Regions from separate parts of the Homo sapiens genome. Here region 1 is linked to region 2. A link means that fine-mapping ties the variant in region 2 to the expression of a gene that starts in the linked region. Tissue or cell type: whole blood. Region 2 holds a variant in brackets; the other region holds the start of a gene. All regions are shown on one strand. Distances are between the middles of the regions.

Region 1 (2,500 bases), 120 kb after region 2:
ATAGAGTAGTGGCTGCACTTTTAAAATAATCGCTGTCTTTTTCATTGTCAAAATAATTGAGTGGTCAGATAATTTTGGGAAAAGTTGCATACTATATACCCCGTTTCATAGGGATTAATAACATATTAGCTTACTAAAGGATCTGAGTGAACCTGCACTTAACACATTGACAATGGCACCATTTCTTCAAGAAACTCCTATGACCATTTGTTTCAGATTAAGCATTAGTATCAGAGTTACTGTGGTACCTTAAGATTACCCCCAAATTCAAAAGCTACACGAAAAAAGAATAATTTTGGCTCTCTCTCAATAGTAATGTAATCCTTAACAGTTCAAAATTATCCCTAGCTATATGTTACTATAAACTATTTTTAAGACGGTTTTTAATGAATAAGAAATTAAGTATTAACGAATACAGCCATGTTAAAATCTGGAAACTTCATACCTCTACTTTTTCTTGCTCCTCTAGTGCTAAAAACACAGCTGCTCGGAGTTCAGCCTTAAAAAAAAGTTAAGAAACAGGAAATTATAATTTCAAGACAATTTTCACAACAAGCTCACATTTATCCAGCAACAAACACGAGCAAGCCAACGAGCTGGGAGGGCAGGTGCAAAGGTCAGAAACGCCTTCCGAAACGTTCTCAGTCACACAAGCTCTCCGACCCCCAGGCTTCGGCTGGACGCGCTGCTTTCCCGCCGCGGATCATGCCCGAGCCTGAGGAAGAGACGCTGGGGCCGCACTCCAGGGCCCAGCTGCGGGCCGCCCGTGTGGCCCCCAAGCCCCGCGGTCCCGCCCCCACGGAATGAGGCAGGGGATGGGCCAGGCACCCCCAGTCCGCGGTGCCCTCCGGGACCACACGAACGAACGAGCCGACCCCCTCTGTGGGGCGGGCAGGACGGAGGCCATGCCGGGGCGCGCCCCCAGTGCCCGCCGGCCCCGGTCCCTCGCCAGGGAGGCGGCCTCCTCGCCGCGACCGTTGTGACGCCCGCTGTCCACGCAAGCCCTGCGGATCCGCCAGGCCCGGCCCCAGCCTCCGGCCTCACCTTGATGCGGTTCAGGACCCCGCTGTTCTCCAGCGTCTGCACCAGCAGGTCCCGCAGCTCCGTGTCCTCCTCGGCCACCACTGCGGCCGCCGTCGCCGCCATCTTGCTTCTCCAAGACAACCGCCGAAGCCGCGCTAACGGCCAACGGCCGCAGCAGGGTACGCTCCGCGCGCGGGCTACGCGGCCGACGCAGCCAAAGCCCCGCCCCGACGCGCAGCGCGCTGGCCCTGCCCCCTGGCGTCGGGAGGCGGGGCATAGAGACCTCGGGGTTGACGCTGGACACCGAGCCTTGGGGAGCGCCGGACCACTGAGCGCCGAAACTTAGGGTCGGCGCTGGGGGCGGGGCTGCGGGGCGCGGGTGGGCACGCAAGGGGCGGGGCGTCGGCGGGGCCTCCAGCCGGCAACCCGTTGGCTGCCGTCGCCTGAGGCGCGAGCTTTGAAGCCGGCGAGCGGTGAGGAGGAGGCGCCCTCGCGTGTGGAGAGCGGACTCCGCCTGGACTCCACCGCCCACGGCCGCATCCCATCGCCGCACAAGATCGCCGGAGTCATATTATCGACGTAGTTAAAGCCCACTAGCCTAAAGCCGGGCGGACTGCGGTAAGGAGGCCCCGAGACCGAACCTGCAGCCCCTGCAGCCCCGGGGGGGCGCCGGGGAAGGGACTCCCGAGAGGTCGCGAGGGGCGGAAGGCCCTGCAGGTTGTCACCCGGAAATAACGTTCTGAGGCCCCCCAGCCAGGCGAACGCACCCTGCTCGGCCACGGCCTCCGAGGCTAACCGGAAAGGTGCCAGGCCGAGGTGCAGGGGCGGGATGGCCCCAGGAAGAGCCGAGGGCCGAGGAGGGCGTTGGGTGGGCTCCGCGCTGCCCGAACTGGGGCCGCAGTCTCCACTCCCTCCTGCCCCGCGGCCCTCCGCCGACAGCCAGGCGCCGGCGGGGAGTCCTGGACCCCTCCCGGGCCCTGGAAGCCCCGTCCCGCCGGAGCTGACGCGCCCTCTTGGTATCCATCCGGCCGCCTGGGCTGCCCCTCGCCCCTCGCCTTGGCAAAACCAGCCCCCGGACCGAGCCCTGCCTTGGAGAGTGTGGGTGCGCAAGGCCAGCCGAGCTGTCGGTTCCGGGGTTTCGGGGTGCGCCACTGTATGGCGGCGTAAGCCGAGAAGTGTCCGAGGCCGGGCTCCAGCAGTTGAGAGGCTGATTTGGCCACGGTGAAGGACGCGCCCGGAGGAAGGAAACGGGAATCCGAAACGGGCGGTGGCCGCGCCTTTCCCGAGGCCGGCGTCGAGGGCTTCAGCGCCTCAGGGTGGGCGGGAGGGGAAGGTCGTGCGACCCGCGTGGCCGGCGGAAAGGAGCAGCGGGAGCCGCGGCCGTAGGGAAGCCACGGGAAGACGGGCGGCTGCGCTGCGATGCGCGGCCCTCTCCCTGAAGCCCTCGGCTCAGGCGCCACAGGAAAGGCTCCTTCGG
Region 2 (2,757 bases):
CCTTCCTTGCAGAACAAAGAGATTCATGGCCACTGTGGGGGCCCCTTCTGTTAGACTGCACAGAGGCAGGGATCTGGAGGTCTCCAAGAGTGGCCTCCTCCCTGCAACACCCTCCCTGCCCCAGAGGGGAAGGTAGTGGATGGAGATTGAGACCCTGCTGCTGACTGGCTCCCAGCCTGGGCTGGTTGCCTTTACTTCGAGAGCTGAGGTGGAAGCTCCATATGGCACTGACCTCTGCAATGTTTCTCATGTCCTTTGCCCCATATTCCTTCTGTAGTTCCAAGTCAAATCTAAATTATATGTCACCCTGAGAAAGCTGAGACCTATTTGGTTTTTAGCTCTCTAAAAATGCCCCTATATTAAAGATCCTCTTAGATCTCACTCTTATTGAAACTTCCTCAAATTTAAAATCACACTGTTCATTTGCATAGACACTGTGAGGTGCATAAAAGGCGAGGAATGTGGCTTACAGTCACATGTTTCATAACAATAAGTTTCCAGGCAGAAAATTCCACAGCAACATCAGAAGTTCATTCCTAAGAAAAGCCAGGGACAGTTTGGTAAATTCAGATAACAGTCATAAGGAGTTGCTTTAAAACTCAACATTGAGGCATTTCTAGGAAAGCCATCTGCCTCTGGCTACAATCCTACAGAGGACACTGTGTACAGCTCAGAATGGGTCACCATGACCGTTTCTCCTTGTGATTGCCTTTAATTCACAAACAGGCTCTGCACACACTGGAGGCCATAGCACACACACTGGAGGCCATGGCACACCACTTTGTGGACATTGGTCATCTGGGTGTCAGTCATCTTTTGAAATTATCAGCAAAGTTGAAAAGATAGTAAATGCTTTGTTAACCCCTAAAGTAACACTCTGTATAAACTTTGAGGAAGTCAATATGGTGAGCTGGTTGGGAATTCTTGCTGAGATACCAGGCAGCAGCAGTGCACCACCTGCCGGCCACATGTGGGAGTCCCCCAGCCCAATCGAGCCTTCGGATGACATGGCTCCCACCCACTCTCTGATGGTACCTGCAGTGGAGGCCCCAACTGAGAAGCACTCAGC[C/T]GAGCCCAGTTGACCCCCAGAGCCACAAGAGATTGTAAATAAATCACTGTTAAAGCCACCATGACTCAAGGTGGTAGATAACTGGGGCAGTTTTCTACTCTCATTGTGCGCACAAAACTTCTGAAGTAATGAACATGTTTTTAAAAAACAAAACAAATTAAAATAAAAGCGTCATTTGTTGGTTTTTACAAAACCCTCCCCAGGAAAGCCTAGAGTTAGCACAGGTGCTGAGAGTGGAGGGACAGGAAGAAGAAACCTACAACAATGACAGCTGGCAGGCAGCCACAGGCTCACACCCATTGCAAAAACATAGACTACCGAGCCCAGCAGTGCTTGGATCTGTGTTATGTGGTTTGGATCTATATCTTTTTCTTCATAAAAAAGTTAAAAAAGGCTACTTAACAAATTACATCAGCAAATTCTCTAGTAGGGACAAAAACACATTTTATAGGAGGAAGTACAAGCTGTGCTGACACCTTGAATTTTGGAGTTTACGAAGATGTCAAATGGTGTATCCTTCAATGCTCACTGTATATGCTAATACATTTGGGCATGGGGAGTCACTCTGTGTTATTCTACCCCATAAAGTAGCTGGCCTGAAAATTACTCTCCCAAATAGCCAGGAGAACACCTGTTATAAATTATTTTTCAGATACGAATCATTTTTTCAGATAGTTACTATGTACAGCACACAAGCTACAGAAATAGTTAAAAGTATGCCATTTACTTCCCACCTTTTGGGAACTCATATAGTTGGAAAGTTGAGGCCTAAATACATGACAATACAAGCCACATGTGATATGCAGAGAGCCTACGTGTGACGGATCAGTGAAGAAATGCCACTGCGAGCGTCCAGTTCACAGGAGGGAGCACAGAGGAGCTCCTCCACCTCCAGCATCCTGGACTTCAGGCTCTTCGTGAAAGGCTGGGACTCAGCCAGGAAGGCGACTCAGATCTGACCAGGTAGGCAGGGGGAGGAAGGCAATTTGGGGACAAACAGCATGAGCCTGGGTGGGGAGGCAGAAAGGCACCGAGGTGGAGAGCAGTAAGGACAGGTGGGGGCACCAGCCCTCAGTGGGGAGCTGGGGAGGGTGGCTGCAGGACCGGAAGGCTGGCAGCAATACAAAGACACAGACGTCTGTGGGCCGTGGAGGGACAGGGAGCGAGTTTACGGTAGGGAGAAGAGCAGGTCACAGGGCAGGTGCACCCTCCTCCTGGCGGCAGCCCTGCCTGACATCACAGAGTAGAGAAGGGAGCCGGGACCAAGGGCGTCCAGCATGTGGGGCTGACCCTCGCCATTTCACCCATTCATTTTCATTAATCCTCACTAAAGGCCCAGGGGCCCTGGGGTTGTCATAGTCCTCCTCAAGTGACAGATGAGAAAACTGAAACTCAGAGGAAAAACGCAACTTCCTCAAGTTCATACACCAATAAGTTGAAGAGCCAATCTCAAAACCATGTCATCTGATCCAAAAGTTCATACCTTTCTGGGATACATGTGAAGAGAAAATGATGTGGGGAGATGTTTTGGAAAATATCAGTAAGGAACAAGCAAAAGGGGAATCAAGATGATGCCAAATTTTACATCGGGACAGAAATAGGGAAATCAAACTGAAAGCTTACTTTTTATTTACTAATTTATTTCTACGTAGAAGAACAGTTATAGAAACCGGTCTAAGAGGGAAGAA

Evidence for each region. PIP is the estimated chance that this variant, and not a neighbour inherited with it, causes the effect.
Region 1: CEP43 starts here. The variant in region 2 is fine-mapped to the expression of CEP43 in whole blood (TOPMed, PIP above 0.99).

Annotation. Positions count from the first base shown.
Region 1 is chr6:166,998,059-167,000,558 of GRCh38, reverse strand. CEP43 (centrosomal protein 43) reads right to left here and starts at 1,162. Exons shown (of 13, transcript NM_007045.4): 1 at 1,045-1,162; 2 at 446-499. The coding sequence starts at 1,146. RefSeq lists silencers at 701-790, 801-960, 1,051-1,570, 1,861-2,090.
Region 2 is chr6:167,118,461-167,121,217 of GRCh38, reverse strand. It overlaps a transcript of CCR6 not described here. Among named protein-coding and RNA genes, the nearest start is that of CCR6, 3.3 kb to the left of the region's middle. RefSeq lists an enhancer at 1,713-2,213. The variant C/T (reference allele first, on the strand shown) is at 1,070.